3 linked regions of the Homo sapiens genome follow. The protein of the gene in region 1 interacts with the protein of each later gene in a pairwise test. Each region holds a gene or a part of one and is shown in the gene's direction. Other genes may lie near its edges.

Region 1 (7,697 bases):
AATCAGTTTCTACTATATTTATATCTGCCATCCCAGTGTTGGTGGTAGGGTCTTCAGATCCCTGGGGAAGCAGATGGTGGGATGAGAGTAGGAGAGTTGTGTTGGGACTCCAAGTGTTGAAGGGGCACAGAAAGAGCTGAGTGGCACAGAGAGGTTGTCCCAGAGTAGCGGAGTCTGCTTTGGGGAGAAGAGAGATTGACTGAGGATAGCATCAAGTTTTTCATTTTATGTACAAAGATGATCTTTTTAGCTTCACCCAGGAAGTATGGGTTTTGTGTCTTCCTCGTGTTTAGGTTTTTATTCTGACCTAATTAGGTCTAAGCTGAGGTGCTTATTTCTCTTCTGGAGTTTATATCCTAGAAGCTCTCCAATCGAAGCCCTCTGCAGGTATCCTCAGGTCCTGGAGAAACACAGCAGGAAGGCTTGTTGGCTTCGGAAAGGGAGGGCTATGGTTTAAAGCCAGTAAGATGTGGGTTTGATTCTTGACTTTGTCTCCTGTAGGCTGTGTGGCCTTAAATAAGTTACCTAATCTCTTGAGTCCTCAGTTTCCTCATTTGTAAGGCAGAGGAAACAATGCCTATGATTATGCTGATTAAATGAAACAGAGGCACAAAATAAGTGTTTAATGAATGACAACTACTATTGTCATTATTCTTCCTATCCATGCTATCTGCCATGTATTGGAGGCAAAAGCTGTTACTACTTCATGCATATGCGCTATGCAGGCTTCCAGAATGAAACTGATGGGGTCCCTTTCCCCCACATATGTGAGAGGGGGTCCCTCTTATTTCAACTCGTTCCTCATTGCTGGTTTGGCATATCTCAGCTACTCTAACCCGGCAAGAATCCACAGAAGAAGCCAAGAAGGAAAAAGGCTTATACATTTGCTTTACCCATAAGAAAACCTCAAGCCCTGTATCTGAAAAAAGAGGAAGATAAAAGGATCTATAAGACTTCAAGTTCCATGAGAAGAGGGACATGTCTATTTTGTTCAATACTCTATGCCCACTGCCTGGCACATAGGCAGCAAAACAAATATCTGTGGAATGCTATGTAAAGGCATCTATAGATGATGTGCCTCCCTTTAAGAAACCCAATATTTGAATATTTGCACTCATTCATACAAGATCCTCAAGTGCTCCGTTTGGATAATCTGGAGGGTATGAAAACATAGCCAAGATCATGAATTCTTTGGGCATTTGGGCCGCTGCACTGTTGCACCATTTAGACCTGTGATCTGAGAGTGTGAAAAACTCAAGGGATCCTCTGTAAAGTGTCTGCCTTTTTTTCCCTCCTGGGAGGAGCCGTTAGAAGGGCAACATTCTCCTTTCTCCCCCTTGGACGTGTGGGTGTTGGGGCAAGGGTGAGGAGTGACAGAGGTCTCCTGGGAAGACCATAAGATGGGGCAAGCACACCACAGTGAGGAGGGGGAGTCTGGCTATGACTTTAGAATTTCCTGATCGAAATTTCTCCTCTAAAGCTCCCCACCCTACTTGGGATCTGAGGTTATCATCCCCTCCCAGTCCCAAGAACCCTTCTTCCCTTGTTGGCAGAAATCTCCAGGAAGCATGCCCACAGGAACCACAACTCATGAATCAGAAGACAGATAATTAACCGAGGGAGTGACTGAGCAGCTTCAGGGATGAACCGCTTCGTTTTACCCAGCCCTCTCTGCTGCCCACAGAGTGGGCTGCTCCACCCCATCGCCTCTGCTCCCTCTTCCTGAACCTTGGCCCTTCCTGAGTGGGACCTTCATTGTGCCTGATGGAGCTCAGGCCACTAGTGGAAATGAAGGTGGGAGCAGGGAAATGACTCTGTTTAGGGGAACTGCCTATTCCCCGTGTGGGAACTGCTGGCATTTATTGAAACGTGAGACTCTCCAGCAAAAAAGTGATAGCATCTGCCTTTCTGTCCACACACACAGTCTCACCAAAAACACTCTTTTTTTTTTTTTGTTAGATAATTCAGGTATAATTTATGTACAGTAAAATTCACCCTTTTTAGTGCATACAGTTCTATGAATTTTGACAAATGCATATAGTCAAGTAACCATTGCCATCATCAAGATACAGAATTTTTCCATCATCCCCTAAAATTCCCCCAAGCTCTTTTTTTCCCTTCTTTTTCTTTCTAGAGGCAGGGTCTCACCATATTGCCCAGGCTGGTCTCGAACTTCTGAGCTCAGGCAATCTGCCCACCTCGGCCTCCCAAAGTGTTGGGATTACAGGCGTGAGCTACTGTGCCAGGTGCCCCCCCAGCTCTTTTGTAATCGATACCCTACCCTCAACCCTCGTCGGTTGCAACTGCTGATCTATTTCCTGTCCCTGCAGTTCTATGTTTTACAAAATGTCATATAAATGAAAGCATGCAGTGTATAGACTTTCAGTCTGGCTTCTTTCACTTAGCACAATACATTTGGGGTTAATCTATGATGCTGCATCTATCAGTAACTCTAAGACATTGTCTGAGGCCACTCCGTCATCCTCCGTGTTGGAACAGTTACCCTGAAAGCAGTGGGACTGGATCCGTTAAACTTTGGAGGTGCTCCCCAGCTTTCAGCTTCTAAATTTTATAATTGGATAGATGTATTTAGCTATATATAAGTCATTAGATTTTCCATGTGCTAAGTAGTTAAAGACTTCAGGATACTAGAGAGGATTCTGTAGCAACCAACACTTATTATTCTTGCTCATAGGAGTAACAGATATTTTGTGGCCAAATATTGTATGTCATGATGCTTGGAGTCAGAAGTTGTTAAGTAAACCTGGGGGCTATTCTACCTTTTTACATTTTTGGTAGCATCTCTGAAAAAACAACCCACTTGACTTTTTTTTTTTCCTTTTTTTTGGGAGGGTGGGTGGGTGGGTGGCTTTTTGGCCAAAACCAGAAAGCTTGCTAGACAAATTCTAACACTAGATCTAACACTAGATGTCTTATTTCTGTTTTTCTGTCATGTTCCCATGAAAAGACTATTTACTTACCCCCCTCTCTCGGTTTTATAGTTGAGTTAGTTCAATTTCTTAGTTCAGTTAGTGAAGATGTTTAAATATTCAAGGAGAGAAAGAAAAAGAACAAGGTGATACACATTTTAAAAAAGTCAAAATAACAAATATTGTTATTTCTTGGCTGGGCGCGGTGGCTCATGCCTGTAATCCCAGCACTTTGGGAGGCCGAGGCGGGCGGATCACCTGAGGTCAGGAGTTCAAGACCAGCCTGACCAACATGGAGAAACCCTGTCTCTACTAAAAATACAAAATCAGCTGGGCATGGTGGCATGCGTCTGTAATCCCAGCTACTCGGGAGGCTGAGGCAGGAGAATCGCTTGAACCCAGGAGGCAGAGGTTGCAGTGAGCCGAGATTGTGCCATTGCACTCCAGCCTGAGCAACAAGAGCAAAACTCTGTCTCAAAAAACAGAACAAAACAAAACAAATATTGTTATTTCTCAAATAGGTTCATCCACATAGGATCATTGTCAGTCGTTAAAATTGCTGGTTCCCTTCTAATTCTATTCCCCTATAATGTTCATATTAATCAGGTGGTGTGTTCTGTTTAGACATTTCCCCTCGCATTTATGTTTATTTGTGTGTGTGTGTGTATTCCTTTACTTAAACCCATGATATATAGTACTTCCTTTTATATAGAAAAAAGCTCAGTGTGGAAAGAACAACGTATCTGGAATTAAGAAACCTACATTCGATTCACAGTTCTGCAGGCTTTTTCATCAGCTTGCTGGGTGACTTTGAACAAGTGACTTTACCTTTAGGCATCAGTCTCTTGGTGTCCCAGGGGCTGCAAAGTGGGACAGAGAAGATGAAGGGAAATACTTCAATTTGCTCCTGCCCCTTCCCCACCACCTTCAACTGGAACTCCTTTAACTAATTAACAATTTGGAGTTCATGTAAGGATTTCTTTGGGAAAAAAAGAAGATCCTGCTGTTAAAATCAAGCTTGAAAAACTTTGCACTAGAAGAGAGCTCCAGAAGTTTGGCAAAAGACATATTCAGTAGCCACTTAAAAAGTCCCTGTAGTCAACCCTACATCTCTTTGCTAATGGAAATTTTGGATAGAGAAACCTGGGTCTGTGAGATCCACTGATGGCTCCAGACCCCAACTTTAGCCATCGCACGTGTTGAACTCCAGGTTGAGCCTTTGCTGGAGCCGCCTGCAAGGAGCATGTTTGACCAATCCCCAGTGGAGGGGAGGGTGGTGTTTCCTTTCTGGGACTTCCACAAGTTGAGAACAGACCATGCTGCCCTGGGCAGTTCTTGAAGGCTGTGAGAGTGGGCCTGACAAAGTTTATTCCTTTTTTTTTTTCCATTCTCTTTTATTATTATTATTGTTTGAAATTGACAAATAAAAATTATGTATATTTATGATGTACAACATGATGTCTTGAAATATGTGCGCATTGTGGAATGGTTAAATGAAGTTAAATAACATATGCATTACCTCACATACATACTTCTGATTTATTTGTGGTGAGAACACTTAAAAATCTCCTCCCAGCAATTTTCAGGTAGATGACATACGGTTATTAACTATAGTCACCATGTTGTACAGTGGATCTCTTGAACTTATTCCTCTTGTCTAACTGAAAATTTATATCCCTTGACCAGCATCTCCTCATGCAAACCATACCCCAAAGCTCATTTCTGTGTTCCTGCTGAGTTTGCCATTCCAAGAGGTTTTGATGCTGAAGGTGCAGTTTGTGGAAAGCCCAGCAGACTCTGGGGAGCCTACATTTAAATAAATGCAAATGTCGACAGGGAGGCAGAACAGAGGACATTTCAAATTAGCTTTAATTTTCTTTTAGCTTATAAAAGTAATTAAGCTTATTATTTAAAAAAAGGCAGCTCAGAAATATAATGCAGAAAGTACCAGTACCAGTTCCTTGTAGTCTTGTCCTTAAAGATAACCACTGTTGATAGTTACTGCAGAGTTTTTTTCTATGTATTTGTCAACATATATAATTATTTATCATTATTGTTATTTCTCAAATAGGATAATCAATAATAGGATCATTGTCTTTTTTTTTTTTTTTTTTGAGATGGAGTCTCACTCTGTCGCCCAGGCTGGAGTGCAGTTGTGTGATCCCAGCTCACTGCAACCTCCGCCTCCTGGGTTCAAGCAATTCTCCTGCCTCAGATTCCCGAGTAGCTGGGATCACAGGCATTTGCCACCACGCCCAGCTAATTTTTGTGTTTTTGATAGAGACAGGGTTTGGCCATGTTGGCCAGGCTGGTTTTGAACTCCTAACCACAGGTGATCCACCCGCCTCGGCCTCCCAAAGTGCTGGGATTACACGCATAAGCCACCGCACCTGGCCCATTGTCTCTTAATAATATACTCTAGGCATCTTTTTATGTCAGTTTATGGCTTTCCATTATTTATCCCAAGAGCTATAATTCTAGCCATAAGGCATACTCTTTGTTATATGGATATATCAGAATTTACTTAACCAATTCCCTGTTGGCAGACATTGGGATCATTCCCAATTATTTGCTACTACAAATAAAGCTGCAGGGGATATCCTTATTCATTTATTATGCACCTTTGTTCAAGTGTTTCTACAGACTTAATTTCTTGAATGAAAGTTGGTGGGTCGAAGGGCATGCGTATTTTAAATTTAAATTTTAGTAGGTGTTGTCAATTTGTCCTCCCAAACGGTTGAACCAGTTTGCTTTCCTACCAAGACAGGCTGGCAGTAAGGACTGGTGTTAGCACCGCGGCCTGCTGTCCACACCCATAACACATGAGCTGGGGGAGGAAGGCTGCAGAACTGGACAGCAGGATGCCAAGGAGGTCACCAATAGGGCACCCCTGGGCTGAGCCTCGGACAGCTTGGTACAGACCTGCTTCTTCTGTATACTGAATGAGGTGGGGTCGATGCTAATAAAAATTTCCAGAACTCTTGAGATGCAGCGTTTGAGTCAAATATCAGGCCATCAGGAAGAAATGGCCACTTGTGCCTTGTTTGAGGGTTCTCATGCCTTGGGTTGCTAGGCTTCCTAGGGTATGAGTCCCCCTGTTGATGTTTTCTGGCTGGAAGAGTGGATACTTCCAGGACTGGCAGCACCTTGAAGATCATCAAATTTGACACCTGTTTGTTTTACAAAAAAGCAAAAAGGGAGTTCCTGAGAAGTGAAGTGACTTGTCCAAGATCATACAACTGGCTCAGTGGCATTGGTTGGGTCTCTCCCTGGGGACTCTTGTCTCCTGCCCAGAGTGATTTCTTCACTATATCCTGTTAGAGACAAAGGGCCCTTTCACGTCTGACCCTGAGGTGGAGGCGAGGGGATGGGGATTCCTGGTGTAGGAAGTGACTAGAGTGAAAGTAAGGGGGAAGGAAATGAACATTTATTGAGCATCCACTATAGAGGGTTCTTTCATACGTGTTATGTCATTTAATCCTAACAACTCGGGAGCACTGGGGAAAGGAAGCAGCTGTTTGGAGTCTCCGGTGCTTGGCCGATGTGGCTGGTTAGACCCGTTAAATACTACAGAGCAGTTATCACTTCTCGACTATGAATGTGACATAGACTCAAAGAGGCACTGGGCCTTGGAGAGAGCACCAGAGAGATGAAGGGATGTACTTGAGGTCATACGGCCAGAGGAAGGGCAAAGATGGCTTTAGACGTGAGGTTTCCTGCTGCTTTGCATGCTTTTTCTGCCATATCCATCTGTTGTTTTACTGCTCCTGCCTTACCACATTTCTCAGGAGCTGGGTGTTAATTTTAGACCACAACCTTAGAGAAGACAGGACTCTGTCCCTGGAATGGGCTTTATGCAGTCTTCAGCACATGGCGACCTAATTAACCTCATTGGAGATGATAACCAGACATAATGTGGCTTCATTTACAAGGACAGGACCTGCCCTAGATCTTCCCATTAACATCATCTTGAAGTGTCAGCTCCACAGAGAGACCTTTCCTGACCACATGCTTTAAAGGAGACTCCTTCCCTCATTGCTTGCTATTCCCCGCCCCCCCCACCCCCACCCTTTCTTTTCCCTTTGAGGCAGAGTCTCACTCCATCACACAGGCTGGAGTGCAGTGGCACGATCTTGGCTCACTGCAAACTCCGCCTCCCATGTTCAAGCAATTCTCCTGCCTCAGCCTCCCAAGTAGCTGGGATTACAGGTGCGTGCCACCATGCCCAGCTAATTTTTCTAGTTTTAGTAAAGACTGGATTTCGCCATGTTGGCCAGGCTGGTCTTGAACTCCTGACCTCAGGTGATCTACCCGCCTTGGCCTCCCACAGTGCTCAGATTACAGTGTTAGCCACCATGCCCGGCCTATCCTGCTTTATTTTCTTACAGCATGAAGGGTCAATGAAAGGATATGGCCAGTGGTCAAGACATTTGAACTTTGTGTACAGGGAATCCCCTTGCTCAGACAAAAATCCTTCCTGTTTTTCCCTTGTGAACAAAAGTTCTCTGAAAAGGAATTGGGAGGAAAGACTTTATTCCAATGAACAGTTTGGAAACTGGGGAAACTCAGCTGTTGGTGTCAGAATTGGGGGTTTATAATGAAAGTTCCTGCCTAGGATCCTGATGAGGTCCACTTATGCAAATGAACAATTCCAACTTGCTTAGTTCTGTTTGGTTGAAACAACTGAGGCCTGATTGGTCAAGGCAGCAGAGCCCTGACTGGTTATTTTAGGTTAGCTCTGGAGGTCCCAAAGTTGAAGAGAGGTGT
Region 2 (7,000 bases), on another chromosome or scaffold:
TTGCTCCAACAGACTTTGTTTTTAAAAGGCTTTTCTCAGCCATAGCTGTCTGTTCTAGCACAAGGCTGGAATGAGTTCCTTGTGAAAGAGGTGAGCAGGTGTGAGGGAGGGTGTCAGTGGGCGGTAACCCACACCTTCAAGGATTAAAGGAAAACTTGCATTTGGCATGCTTGCTTCTTATTCAATTTTAAAATACATTTTAACGGCCGGGCACGGTGGCTAACACCTGTAATCCCAGCACTTTGAGGGGCTGAGGTGGGTGGTTCACGAGGCCAGGGGTTCAAGACCAGCCTGGCCAAGATGGTGAAACCCCATCTCTACTAAAAATACAAAAAAAAAAAAAATTAGCCGGGCGTGGTGGCGGGCACCTGTAATCCCAGCTACTCGGGAGGCTGAGGCAGAGAATTGCTTGAACCCAGGAGGCGGAGGTTGCATTGAGCCGAGATCATGCCACTGCATTCCAGCCTGGGCGGCAGAGCAAGACTCTGTCTCAAAATAATAATAATAATTTTTTAAAAATACATTTTAAGTCCTTTTCTTCCCCACCTGCCTCCACCCACCAAATAGAAGAGGTATTTCTTCTTCTTTAATGTCATTAAGGTTATATGGATACCATTTTCTAGAGAGGAAAGAATGATGGAATTGCCTAGTGTGAGTCTAGCAATTATCCTAACATACACAAATTTCTCCTTGTTCTGTGCCAAGATACTGTATTTAATATTTAATGAACATTAAATATTATTTACTAGTGTATTTAATGGCTGAGGCAGGGTTAAATATGTATTATTTTCATCCCAGCAGAGTTGGGGGAGGTCCTAGTAACTATGCCATGAGCTCTGTGAGGGTGAGGTGGTGTCTTTGCCCCCGCCTCCCTGGCACAGTGACTGGCACATGATTGGCATAGTGTGGACATTCGTCAAGTGAAGGAAGGCATCATGAGCAGATCTCTGGCCTGAATCCTTCTGCCATCAGCTGCTCGCCAGGTGGCCCTGGCACTGGGCCACAGGGAAACTCTCCAGGCTGGTATGGTTCCTGTCTGTGGCTGTCTTCCCGGGCCCATGTTAGGAGACTTTCACTTCCAGAGCCCTTTCCCTCTCAGGGCCTTGCTTACCAAGTGACTGGTTCCCATTTACTAGGAGCTCTTAGGTCATTGAAGATGTTGCGTACTCCCCCCAGTGAGGGCTGCCTTTTGATCACAGCCGCCAGAAGCCTCAAGGAAGGAGCAGAGCTGGAAACAGACGCCAGGCCATTGCTTCTGTTCCTCTGGGGCAGACCCAGCCACGGAAGAGACATTCTGGGACAAGGGCTGGGGTCCACCTTTCAAACGTGTCTGCAGCAGGCTCTCAGCATGGACTCTCTGCCTCCAAACATCCACCTCCTCATCGGAAAATGGATGGGAGTGCCTGCCTGGAGCAGCTGGTGGGAGAGCGCAGCGCCAGCACGTAGGACACACTCGGTTCATGGGCTGATGCCGTTCGCATTGACTGCCTCTTCAGCTGGGTGTTGAGCCACACCTTGGAGTCACCAGTCTTTGGAGACCAAGTCTGCTACTTTTTTCTCTAAAGTGACAATCCTCTGAAACCTCCAGATCATCTTGAAGCCCCCGTCTGAAAGTTGCCCAGAGCCAGTGCCTCACCTGCTGTTCCTTGTTCACTTTTTCACGGGAGGCCTTGCAGGGCTTTATGACAAGATTTTATGGGTGGCTGCCCAGCATCATTGTGACTCGTGAGACAGAGAGAAACCAGTTGTAACCATGTAGACAGTGGAAGTGATAGGGAGAAAAGAGGTGAGGGGACTCTTCAATCCGAAGGGAAATGAAGTCTAAGCAGGCGCACCCTGCAGGTTCAGTGTCAAGCCCAGGGCCTGGCCCCAGGGTGTGGTATTTGTTGACTGGGTGTGTGGACCCTGGGAGAAAGTCTGAGAATGAATGTTCCTCTTAGAGGTAGAGAGTGGAAGGTGACTCTGTGTGTACTTGGAATTAGTGATTTCTGTACAGATGATTCTTTTAGAATCATCATGAGTATTTTTCTCTTTCAGACCCAAGAAACTCGAGAGATCTTACATTTCCACTATACCACATGGCCTGACTTTGGAGTCCCTGAATCACCAGCCTCATTCTTGAACTTTCTTTTCAAAGTCCGAGAGTCAGGGTCACTCAGCCCGGAGCACGGGCCCGTTGTGGTGCACTGCAGTGCAGGCATCGGCAGGTCTGGAACCTTCTGTCTGGCTGATACCTGCCTCTTGCTGGTAAGGAGGCCCTCGCGGGTGCCCTGGGGAGCTCCTCTACCTGCTCTGCTGTGATGTTTTTTCCTAAGTAGAAACTGAAGCGCTCCTCTTCCAAAATACAGAGACTCACTGTGTTAGTCTGTTTTTGCGTTACTAATAAAGGCGTACCTGAGACTCGGTAATTTGTAAAGAAAAGAGGTTTAACTGGCTCCCGGTTCTGCAGGCTGTACAAGCATGGCACCAGCATCTGCTCGGCTCCTGGGGAGGCCTCAGGGAGCTTCCAGTCATGGTGGAAGGTGAAGGGGAGCAGGAGCAAGAGATGGGGGAGGTCCCAGACTCTTAACCAGCTCTCTTGTGAATGCATTGCCTCAGGGAGGGCACCAAGCCTTTCATGAGGGACCTGTCCCCCTGACCCAGACACCTCCCACCCAGCCCCACCTCCAACACTAGGGATCACATTTCAGCATGAGATTGGGAGGGGACAGACATCTAACGGTGTTATTAACGTTGCCCTTGAGAATTGGACCTGGCTGACTTATATCTCCTCTCTGGCTTTCAGATGGACAAGAGGAAAGACCCTTCTTCCGTTGATATCAAGAAAGTGCTGTTAGAAATGAGGAAGTTTCGGATGGGGCTGATCCAGACAGCCGACCAGCTGCGCTTCTCCTACCTGGCTGTGATCGAAGGTGCCAAATTCATCATGGGGGACTCTTCCGTGCAGGTCAGCATTGCCTTTGTTTGAATCCAGGTGTGACCATTTTAACTTTTTTGTCTTTGAAGGAGGCTGTCAGTTGTAAAAGTTCAAACACCGTCTGGTGTCAGGGGAAATAGCTACCCTTCATGTTTAAAATAGCTAGAAAGTTGTCAAAATGTTCACCATGTTGCACTTTGTGCCTTTGAAGTGCTCACATAGAGAGCATTGATAGGAAGACGAGACTTTATTTTCAAAAGATTTCATCTTCCAAGTACATGGCTGCAGCCCTGAGAGGCCGAGAGCCCCTCGCCAAGCCGTCACCTCTGCTCATGCAAAGGGATTTCCTGACAAACCAGCCGAAGTGAACACTAATAGGACTTCCTCTTGCTGCTCTTTCAAGGATCAGTGGAAGGAGCTTTCCCACGAGGACCTGGAGCCCCCACCCGAGCATATCCCCCCACCTCCCCGGCCACCCAAACGAATCCTGGAGCCACACAATGGGAAATGCAGGGAGTTCTTCCCAAATCACCAGTGGGTGAAGGAAGAGACCCAGGAGGATAAAGACTGCCCCATCAAGGAAGAAAAAGGAAGCCCCTTAAATGCCGCACCCTACGGCATCGAAAGGTAATATGATTGGGTCCCAGCTTGTTGGGGTGAGGGGAAATGACTTTCTGTTCTAGAAACACACGCTGGTACTGAAACCCTGTGGATGCAGCCTCCTGTTGGCAAGCAGCGCTTCCGCATCCTTGGGGAACAGGGCGCGTGGACCACAGCCACTCCACTCCTGGCTGCTGGAGGTCCGGTATTGGGCACAGGGTGGCCGCAGGACATGAGCCACTTCTGTGGGCTTCTAGTGCCACCTTGTGGTGCTTGTTGGAATGAGGGGCTCGGAGCCACCGAGTAGGGTTTTTCTGCCCCCCCTGACGACAGCGCCCTCCCCCAGGTTTCCGGACAGTCCTGAAATGTGATGTCCAGGCTTGAGTGCCCTCAGTCCCCACAGTGGTCCTTTGGGGAATGTAACCTTTTTTATGTGGTCTTGATTAAATCCCATTTTACTTCCTTGCAGGTTAACAACCATTATTGAGTACCTATTGATATGTGTGGTGTACTGAGTTAACTAGAACATGTCCCCTGGTCTGTGTTCTAGACCATCTTGCTGGGAAAAAGGCAGACCCAAAGCATATTTTGGTGGGGGCCCATGGACAGTGATGTGATAGAGGTGTCCGCTGAGGTGGTCAGGGAAGGCTGCTTGCAGTAGGTGGCCGTGCACGGAAAGTTTGCAGAATGAGCAGGTGTTAGTTCCAGCTGGAGATGACTGCCGGCTGTGCCCTTGGTACCTGCTTTCTGGAGGGAAGTTTTAAGACGTGTGCATACTTGACCCAGCAGTTGTATACATGGAGAAATTTACTTTGCAGCAACTCTCAAAACAAGCGTGTAAAGATGTGTATAGGTAGTTGTGTTTGTTGTGGCATTGTTTGTAGTAGTGAAAAATTAGAGACAGGCCAATGATATAACCAGGGACCTGATCAATTATGTTCTCTCCCGGTGTTGGGATATTCTGTAGCTCTTAAAGAATGAGATCTGGGTGTACTGATGTGGCCAGACATTGCAATTGCAGTACATGAGAAGGCAAATCATACAGTAGTGTGTACACCAGTGAGTCCTCCAGCCAGATAAATCCTCACAGTGACCAGTCGCCCAGGCACCTTGTGAACCCTACCCTGGGTGTGGGTGCTATCTGAAGTACCTGGGGGAGGGGGTGACAAGTGGACTTCAGGCTGATGTGGGCCCTGGCCTGGCCCTCCCTCCAAGCAGAGGGGGCTGGCTCGCTGGAAGGTTAACATCATCCAACTCTGTCTACACGTGGCTTGTTTTTTCCTAGAATTCCTGCCACAATAGCAGCATCCTTGCCATTCATTTTCTCCAAAGTGAGTAACCCATCTCTGCCCTCTGATTCCTCAGCATGAGTCAAGACACTGAAGTTAGAAGTCGGGTCGTGGGGGGAAGTCTTCGAGGTGCCCAGGCTGCCTCCCCAGCCAAAGGGGAGCCGTCACTGCCCGAGAAGGACGAGGACCATGCACTGAGTTACTGGAAGCCCTTCCTGGTCAACATGTGCGTGGCTACGGTCCTCACGGCCGGCGCTTACCTCTGCTACAGGGTATGTTTCCACTGACAGACGCGCTGGCGAGATGCTCGTGTGCAGAGAGCACTGGCCGCTAGCCCGATGGTAGGATTCAGTTCTGTGGTGCATCTGAGCCAGTCTCAGAAGAAACAGATCAAAGGTTTTTAAAGTCTGGAACTGTGGAAGGGCTAACAAGAGAATTAAGGATCGATGCACTGGGGTTTTAAGGAGCCCTCTGGTCCCAAGAATATAAGAGTCTAATCTCAGGGCCTTAACCTATTCAGGAGTAAGTAGAGAAAATGCCAAATACGTCTGTTTCTCTCTCTCTTTTTTTTTTTATTCCTTTGTTTTTGGAAAAAAATAGAGTTACAACACATTGTTGTTTTTAACCTTTATAAAAAGCAGCTTTTTGTTATTTCTGGAACAAAAAAAAACAAAGTAGGCACTTATGAAACTTTCTCATACCCTTAGGTGATGTAATCAGCCATATAATTTATATTTGATTTCCCAGGGAAGGAATCCCAAACTTTTACGAATGTAAACTCCCTTGGAGAAGAGGGTTAGGACGCTGTTGCGCTCAAGCCCCCCTCAGCTGTGTGCACACTGAGCCAGGACAGGGTCTTTGAGCTTTCCCACTATAAGAAGAACAGCAACAAAAGGCCGTCTAGAAAAACAGAACCTGCCTCTGCTTCTGCTCAGGGTGTCCCCGCTGGGTTTCCATTGTCCTTTCTCCATTGCTCCCTCCTGTGACAGCCATCTTGCTCATGTACCAGCCCTCATCACCCCATCCCCATAAATGGGTGTCCTCGAGGCCTCTGCCTGGGGGTCAGAGGTCACCACAGGGTGGCCATTGGCATGTCAACCCGCTGTTAATTCAGAGAAGTGGGCTCCACCTCATTGGGAGAAGTGCCATTTCAGCAGAAATTCACACGTTAGACGTGTGTTGCTGTTAAGTAAGGGGAAGAGAGAGGACTAGCCTCAGAGCTCTGGCCATGGAAATGACCTCCTAAGACTTTTTCGTGGTTTTAAATATTTTACCTCTTTCCAGGTGGCATCTGAGTACATCAGATGGTTTTGCAAAATGCAAACAATTTTTTCCTTGGGGATGATTTTTGGGGAGAGGGGGCTACTGTAAAAAATAAAACCAAAACCCCCTTTGCTCCCTCGGAGGTTGAAGTTGCCGGGGGGTGTGGCCGGGGTCATGCATGAGGCGACAGCTCTGCAGGTGCGGGTCTGGGCTCATCTGAACTGTTTGGTTTCATTCCAGTTCCTGTTCAACAGCAACACATAGCCTGACCCTCCTCCACTCCACCTCCACCCACTGTCCGCCTCTGCCCGCAGAGCCCACGCCCGACTAGCAGGCATGCCGCGGTAGGTAAGGGCCGCCGGACCGCGTAGAGAGCCGGGCCCCGGACGGACGTTGGTTCTGCACTAAAACCCATCTTCCCCGGATGTGTGTCTCACCCCTCATCCTTTTACTTTTTGCCCCTTCCACTTTGAGTACCAAATCCACAAGCCATTTTTTGAGGAGAGTGAAAGAGAGTACCATGCTGGCGGCGCAGAGGGAAGGGGCCTACACCCGTCTTGGGGCTCGCCCCACCCAGGGCTCCCTCCTGGAGCATCCCAGGCGGGCGGCACGCCAACAGCCCCCCCCTTGAATCTGCAGGGAGCAACTCTCCACTCCATATTTATTTAAACAATTTTTTCCCCAAAGGCATCCATAGTGCACTAGCATTTTCTTGAACCAATAATGTATTAAAATTTTTTGATGTCAGCCTTGCATCAAGGGCTTTATCAAAAAGTACAATAATAAATCCTCAGGTAGTACTGGGAATGGAAGGCTTTGCCATGGGCCTGCTGCGTCAGACCAGTACTGGGAAGGAGGACGGTTGTAAGCAGTTGTTATTTAGTGATATTGTGGGTAACGTGAGAAGATAGAACAATGCTATAATATATAA
Region 3 (7,837 bases), on another chromosome or scaffold:
AAATTAAGAATGAGAACACCGTATAAGACAATGGACTTGACTTTGCTCTTTTTTTTTTTTTTGAGGCAGAGTCTCACTCTGCCGCCCAGGCTGGATTGCAGTGGCGCGATCTCAGCTCACTGCAACCTCCACCTCCAGGGTTCAAGCAATTCCCTAGCCTCAGCCTCCCAAGTAGCTGGGATTATAGGTGCATGCCACCATGCCCACCTAATTTTTGTATTTTTAGTAGCGACGGGGTTTCACCATGTTGGCCAGGCTGGTCTCAAACTCCTGACCTCAAGTAATCTGCCTGCCTTGGCCTCCCAAAGTGCTGGGATTACAGGCATGAGCCACCACACCCGGCCGACTTGACTCTTAAGAAAGTTGAAGTCATTAAAAAATGTGCAAGTGGTCTGTGTAGACTCAAAAATACCCATATGCAGTGCATGAACCTAGATCGGATCCTCGTTCAAAAGATAAAAGCAAGGAGGGAATAAAGGAAAGAAAGAAGGAAGGGAGGGAGGCGCCAGGTGTGGTACCTCACGCCTATAATTCCAGCACTTTGGGAGGCCAAGGTGGGCAGATCGCTGGAGCCCAGGAGTTTGAGACCAGCCTGGGCAACATGGGAAAACCCCATCTCTACAAAAAAAAAAAGTACAGTAATTAGCCAGGCATGGTGGCGTGAGCCTGTGGTCCCAGCTCCTCGGGAGGTTGAGCTGGGAGGATCGCTTGTGCCTGGGAAGTCGAGGCTGCAGTGAGCTGAGATTACACCATTGCACTCCTGCCTGGGTGACAGAGAGGGACCCTGTCTCGAAAAGATAAATAAATGGCCGGGCGCGGTGGCTCATGCCTGTAATCCCAGCACTTTGGGATGCCAAGGCGGGTGGATCACAAGGTCAGGAGATAAAGACCATCCTGGCTAACACAGTGAAACCCCATCTCTACTAAAAAAAAAAATACAAAAAAAAAAAAAAATTAACTGGGTGTGGCGGCGTGCGCCTGTAGTCCCAGCTATATTTGGGAGGCTGAGGCAGGAGAATGGCGTGAACCCAGGAGGCAGAGCTTGCAGTGAGCCGGGACGGCGCCACTGCACTCCAGCCTGGGTGACAGAGCGAGATTCCGTCTCAAAAAATAAAATAAAATAAAATAAAATAAAAATAAATGAATAAAATAAAAAAGAAAGGGAGTGAGGGAGAGAAGAAAGGAGGCAGGAAGAAGGAAAGAGGGAGAGAGGAGAAACCACAAAATACATTTTGGGGACAATTGGAGAAATTTGGGTATGAACTGGGTGTTAGATGACATACAGGAATTATTGTTAATTTTGTTAGATGGGATAATGATATTACATGTATGTAAGACAATAGCTTTATTCTAAGGAGATGCATGCTGGAATATTTAGGGGAAAAGTGTCAAGCATCTATAATTTACTTTGTAATGGTTTGGCTAAAAAATAAAAATAAAAAAGATAAAACAAATATTAAAAAATGCTAATCATTGGTGGTAGAGGTTTTGTTTGTTTGTTTGTTTGTTTGTTTGAGGCAGAGTTTCTCTCTTGTTGCCCAGGCTGGAGTGCAGTGGTGCAATCTCGGCTCACCGCAACCTCTGCCTCCCGAGTTCAAGCAATTCTCTCCCAGCCTCCCAAGTAGCTGAGATTACAGGCACCCGCCACCACACTCAGCTAATTTTTTGTATTTTTAGTAGAGACGGGGTTTCACCATGTTGGCCAGGCTGGTCTCCAACTCCTGAGCTCTGGTGATCCACCCACCTCGGCCTCCCAAAGTGCTGGGATTATAGGCGTGAGCCACTGCGCCCAGCCATTGGTGGAGATTTGAAAGTCTTTGTACGATTCTTTCTTTTGTATTGTTGAATATTTTCCAAAACAGAAATTTTAAAGAGACAAAGCAAAATTCTGCCCATCTTCAGATGGAAAGATCATCTCTCTCACCCACCTTTCTTGTTTCCCCAACAAGCATGCAGTTCTCCCTTCCTGCCCGAGCCCACAGCCTCTAGCCCTCTGGTAGGGCTGGCAACTTCTCTCTCCTACTGAGCTACAGCTCCTGGGGGCAAGGACTTCAGCTCACTTGCCTTTGTGTCCCCCATCCCACCACATTGCCTGGCACACACCGGGCTCAATAACAGATACTAATGCCTCCTGCGTGCCAGGCACTGTGAAAGTCCTTAGTTTTATTCACTGTCGTGGTGGCTTGATGAGGTGGCTGTTTGCATCCCATTTTACATATAGGGAAGCTGAAATGCAGAGAGAGGTTAAGTCACTTGCCCAAGGGAACACCCCTTATCCGTGGTGGAGTCCTGCTGATGTATTTATTTATTTTTTTTCAGATAGGGTCCCACTCTGTGCCCAAGCTGGAGTGCAGTGGCATGATCATGGCTCAATGCAGCCTCAACCTCCCCAGGCTCACTTGATCCTTCCACTTTAGCCTCCTGAGCAGCTGGGACTGCAGGCACAGGCCACCACACTAATTTTCGTATATTTTTTGTAGGGAGGGGGTTTCACCATGTTTGTAGAGAGGGGGTTTTGCCAGGCTGGTCTCAGATTCCCGGGAATCTGCCTCTGCCTCCTGCCTCGGCCTCCCAAAGTGCTGGGATTACAGGTGTGAGCCACCACATCCGGCCTGGAGTCCTGTTTAGCCTTGGGTCTGGCTAGCCTGAAAGCCTGGTTATTGTGTCCAAATTAAATCTAAATTCAGTTCTTAACATCCTAATGAGATAGATGGGGGTGATCATTCCCATTTTATGGGAGTAGAAGCTGGACCTGGGGAGGGTAGAGGGTGTCCAAAGGGTCAAATGAGGAAAAGCAGAGCCGTGCTTTGCATTTTCGCTTCTATTTTATGCCAGGCTCTGTCCCGTACCCTATGGACATAAACTCACTTAGTCTTCACATTGGTCCTCGCAGTGAGGGTGGAGGCAGGTGGTGGACCCTACTGGTCTTGAGCTCAGACCTCAGAGCCAGCTGGCTGGGACGAATCCAGGATCCCTCATTTCCTGGCTGGTGAACCTAAGAAAATGTCTTTTTTTTTTTTTTTTTTTAGACAGAGTCTCACTCTGTCACCCAGGCTAGAGTGCAGTGGCGTGATCTTGGCTCACTGCAACCCTCTGCCTCCCAGGTTCAAGCGATTCTCCTGCCTCAGCCTCCCAAGTAGCTGGGATTACAGGTGTGCACCACACCCAGCTAATTTTTGTATTTTTAGTAGAGACGAGGTTTCACCGTGTTGGCCAGGCTGGCCTCGAACTCCTGACCTCAGGTGATCCACCCACCTCAGCCTCCCAAAGTGCTGGGATTACAGGCGTGAGCCATCGCACTCGGCCTCCTCCTCTGTTCTTACATGAACAGAGCAGAAAGAACACGACCTCAGTTTTTATCCCTCCTTGTCCCTCTCTGGGCCTCAGTTTCACCAGTTATAAAAAGAGGGATTGGACATTGGGAATGAGAAGGCTACTAGCTTCCCATGTGCACAGGCCAGGACAGATTCTCTGAGCATGAGTGGACCTTGGCTCCTGCCAAGGGTGTTCCGCTACTTCAAGAAGTATCTAGCCTCCTAACCCCTAACCCCATGCACCAGGCAGCCCATTGGGTTGGGTGGGGGGGCGGGGGGGGGTGGTTGAGGAGAGAGAGGTCCCTGGCCTTGGGATCTGTGGCCCCTCTGCCCAGCCCAACTGGCTCATAGCGTGGGATGCTGGCTCCACAACTGGTTTCCCTCAGATTGGCAGCCTGGAGACACCAGTACAGCTCAGTCCTATACCAAGGCAGAGCTGCTGACTCTTCTGGAGTCTCAGGGATTGTTGCCACTGCCTTTAGGGAAGGCTGCCATGAAGGCAGACTGTGTTCTAATGTGCTCCCAAGGCTGGCAAGCCTCTGCACCCTTCGGTGAGAGCCTGTTGGAGGGCCGGTGCTGGGAAGCCCTCTCCCCATTGCACTAGCCCAATGCTCTCTTTGGGCAGATAGAGAACTCAGGCCCCACGAGAGGCAAGCCTTATCCAAGCCACGGCTACAGAGTTGAGGAGCCAAGAGCCACAGAGTTATCGGGGATGGGTTGGCAGCCACCTTGTTCTTTGGGCTAACAGGGGCCAGAGCAGAGGTGGGAGTGGGTGCAAAGCAGGGAGCGGGAGACCGGGAGGTGGAGGCAGGGAGGCCAGGGCTCTCTCCTGGGTCCTGAGCTGTCCACATTCTGCTCATCATGGTGGTGGGAGGGGAGTTCTCCACTCTGATGCTGTGGATAACCTGGGGTGGCTCCGGGCCTCAGTTTCCCCATCTATCCATATGAAGTTGGACTCAATCCTTCTTTCAGCAGACCCTGCACCAAGCCCCTGCTGACTTCAGGCTCCCTGCTGGGCTCTGGAGATGCATAGATCAACAAGGTCCCCCAGGAGCTTGGGATTCTAAGAGGGGAAATTTAGGGGTCCATCCTGATGTGGGCGAGGCATTCTCTGGATCAAAGAAGAGCTTGTCAGACCCAGGATGGAGGGGCCCTGAGTCTCTCCCGGCCCCTTGGCGCCCCGCTCTCTATTCCACGGCCTGCTGGCCTTTTGTGTGTTGCCCACTTAGGATCAAGGGCCCCAGGCCAGATCCTAGGGCATGTTCCCAGCTTGTGGCAGGAGAGGAGGCCTTTGTACCCAGGCAGGCCCAGTCCAGCCTCCCGGGGAAGGTCCCAGTATGACAAGCCTAGGATGGTGAGAAGCCCAGGGACACAAAGCCGGCTTGGTTCCTTGGCAACATCCTGAGGAATCCAGCGGCTGCACACTGGCTCCCTTCCTCTCCCCTCCCACCCTCCTGCCTGCGGGGGCTGGAGGCGGAGGCAGCCAACCCCATTATAAAAAGCCACAGATCTCTGGCGGCGGCAAGGGGACAGCACTGAGCTCTGCCGCCTGGCTCTAGCCGCCTGCCTGGCCCCCGCCGGGACTCTTGCCCACCCTCAGCCATGGCTCCGATATCTCTGTCGTGGCTGCTCCGCTTGGCCACCTTCTGCCATCTGACTGTCCTGCTGGCTGGTAAGTGGGGCTTGACTTGGGCACAAACAGGGTAGGGAGCCCCCAGCCCCTTGTCTATCCCTCAAGCCTGACATCAGGGGCCCCAGACCCTGCCTGGGTAAAGCTCAAGGCCGGTGGCAGCCGCTTCCCCAGGGATGTGCGAGAGGGGGCTGGGCACCTCGCTTCCCCCAGATGCAGCGCTGGACAGATTTCCAGTTGCCAGCGACCGCCCTGCCTGGCCCAGCGAGCAAAGTGGCTGTGCCTGGAAGCACAGAGAGGTGGTGTGGGTGGCATAAGGGAGCCAGGTGTGGGTGTGCCAGGAGGGCGGGGGTGGAGAGAGCCTGCAGAAGCTCCTGCTGGGCACTGGGGTGGGAGGCCCTGGCTGACAGTGGCTGGCTCTTTCCATCAAGCGTTAATGTGTAACCCGCAGCCCTGGCCCTGGGCCAGGCCACAGTTGGGACTTTCTCCTGTCCTGTTTTCAAAGCCCCCAGGATTAGGGGGCCCAGGACCAGTGAAGGTCAAGGTCACTGCAGCTCATGGTTGGGGCTTGCCACTGCTGTGCTAGTCTATAGCCCCAGTTGCTCTGCCTGTGTCTACCCGTCATGCTGTCTTCCTCCTCCAAGCACAGTGTAGAAAATGCTTTTGCCTCTAGTCACTTGCTTACTGAAGCCCAGGACCTGGTAGGGGTACATAATTAACCATCCTACCTGATATGGATAAGATGGAGGCCCAGAGAGGTTTAGAAACTGGCCTGACAATGCACAGCCAGCAAGTAGGGCAGGAGAAGGTAAGACACATGGGACTGAATGCAGGAGAGAGCACAGATGCACACTCACCACCTCTGTGGGCCACATCACCTCCATGAACCGCTAGCCAGCCCCCTCCTCAGGGAGTGCCCCCACCATCTGGCAGGGTGACCTTCAGAGAAGGTGGGCACACAGCAAGTCTGGGAGAATGAGAAGTAGTCCCCACTGTCCAGATATTTCCATGGAGCAAACTCACCCTGGGGCAGGGAGCAGGTGTGTGGGTGGGTGGGCACGTGAGAGTGGTGGAGGCAAATTCCTGCTGGCTTCCTGCTGTCTGGGCTGGGGCCCTGAAGCCTGAGGTGTCTGCGGACAGTGAGATCTGGAAAGCAGGGAGTCAGATGGCGGCTGCTTTGCCACAGTCCTGTTATGTGACCGTGAGCAGGGTCTTGCCTCCTCTGGTCCCAGTTGCTGCATCTTTAAATATAGCTATTACCTCTCCGGTGGATTGGGGGAGGGTGACGAGGTTCCAATGCCTATGGAGGTGTTTTGAAGAGGGCGGAGGAGGAGGATTACTTTTACTAAGCTGAGAGAGGGAAGGGTCCTAGGCTAGGATGGAAAGGGGACACTGGGGGACCCTGGGTGCTCAGACTAGCAGCCTGAGGCTTTAGAACCAGGCTTCTGCCCTCATCTTGGTCATTGGCTTTACTGGAAGATCCTGGGCATTATTGGAACCTTTCTCAGCCTCACTTTCTCCTCCTGTAAAACTAGGCATTTGACCAGGCTCACCTTGGAAGTCCTCTCCCACGCTGACATGTATGGCTCTGAGAGGCCCTCGGGAGCCCCTGTAGGACAAGGGGGTGGTTTGGAAGCCAGAGAGACCCCGAGAGGAGGCTGGGGGGTTCGTAGCTGCTGCCCTGACTAGTGTGGGGCAGCTGCGTCAGTCCCCAAATGTGGGTTTGTGGGGCTGTGTCAGGCAGGAGGCTTCTGTACTTTATATAACAAACCTGCAGCTACGAGTCAGTGCAGAGCATTGCCCCCCCACTCCAAGAGCTGACGCATTCACTCCCACTCAAGTCCTGGCAAGAAAGAGAAAAAAAAACGAATCTGTTTTAAGCTCCTATAGCCTACCCGCCTCATTAGCAGTGGGGGTGGATGGGGAGGGCATGGGAGGATAAATTCAAGAGTGTCAGATCCAGGCCCCTGTCTAATTTAAATAAAAATTCCTCCATTTTTCTGTTGGTTAAGGTATTATGCCACAAAGCGCTTCCTTAGGCATTTTGTCCATTCATTCAACAAATAGTTATTGGACACCTACTGTGTGACAAACCTGGTTCTAGGTACTGGGGCGGCATCAATAAATAAAACAGCCAAGGACCTCAGCCCTCGAGGTGCTGTAATTCAACTGCAGAGGACACATAACACACAAAGTAAATCAGTAAACAATGTGGTCTGTTGGAAGGAGAAAAGGCACTGTGATAAAAAAATAGAGAGGGGTGGCTGGGCGCAGGGGCTCATGCCTGTAATCCCAGCACATTGGGAGGCCAAGGCGGGCAGATCACCTGACGTCAGGAGTTCAAGACCAGCCTGGCCAACATCATGAAACCCTGTCTCTACTAAAAATATAAAATTAGCTGGGTGTGGTGGTGCATGCCTGTAGTCCCAGCTACTTGGGAGGCTGAGGCAAGAGAATCGCTTGAACCTGGGAGGCAGAGGTTGGAGTGAGCCGAGATCGTGTCACTGCACTCCAGCCTGGGTGACAGAGTGAGAGTCCATTTAAAAAAAAAAAAAAGAAAGAAAAGAAAAGAAAAAGAAAAATAGAGAGGGGAGAAGAGAGGTGTTGACATTTTAAATAGGGGGTTAGGGAAGCCCACTGAGTAGGTGGCTTTGCACAGTTTGGAGCGGGGTGAGGGCGGGAGCCATGTGGATATCTCTAGAGCAATGGTCCTCAGTGAGTAATTTTGCTCCCCTATGGGCCATTTGGCAATTTCTAGAGAAATTTTTTACTTGTTACAAATATCCCAATGTTTTTGGTTCAGTTGAGCTACTCGCCTCTAGTGTGTAGAGGCCAGAGATGCTGCCAAACCTCCTATAGTACCCGGGACAGCCCCCAAAACAAAGAATTGTCT

Evidence for each region.
Region 2: the proteins of ITGB3 (region 1) and PTPN1 interact in binary tests that used the Homo sapiens proteins (3 or more experiments, as listed by UniProt).
Region 3: the proteins of ITGB3 (region 1) and CX3CL1 interact in binary tests that used the Homo sapiens proteins (3 or more experiments, as listed by UniProt).

What each region holds. Positions count from the first base shown.
Region 1 is NC_000017.11:47,256,494-47,264,190, forward strand, and holds part of ITGB3 (integrin beta-3 precursor), read left to right. Parts: intron 1-7,697. UniProt on the Homo sapiens protein: Integrin alpha-V/beta-3 (ITGAV:ITGB3) is a receptor for cytotactin, fibronectin, laminin, matrix metalloproteinase-2, osteopontin, osteomodulin, prothrombin, thrombospondin, vitronectin and von Willebrand factor.
Region 2 is NC_000020.11:50,576,383-50,583,382, forward strand, and holds part of PTPN1 (tyrosine-protein phosphatase non-receptor type 1), read left to right. Parts: intron 1-2,037; coding exon 2,038-2,247; intron 2,248-2,785; coding exon 2,786-2,947; intron 2,948-3,320; coding exon 3,321-3,544; intron 3,545-4,882; coding exon 4,883-5,078; intron 5,079-6,309; coding exon 6,310-6,333; 3' UTR 6,334-7,000. UniProt on the Homo sapiens protein: Tyrosine-protein phosphatase which acts as a regulator of endoplasmic reticulum unfolded protein response. Mediates dephosphorylation of EIF2AK3/PERK; inactivating the protein kinase activity of EIF2AK3/PERK.
Region 3 is NC_000016.10:57,367,653-57,375,489, forward strand, and holds the start of CX3CL1 (fractalkine isoform 1 precursor), read left to right. Parts: upstream 1-4,837; 5' UTR 4,838-4,916; coding exon 4,917-4,986; intron 4,987-7,837. UniProt on the Homo sapiens protein: Chemokine that acts as a ligand for both CX3CR1 and integrins ITGAV:ITGB3 and ITGA4:ITGB1. The CX3CR1-CX3CL1 signaling exerts distinct functions in different tissue compartments, such as immune response, inflammation, cell adhesion and chemotaxis.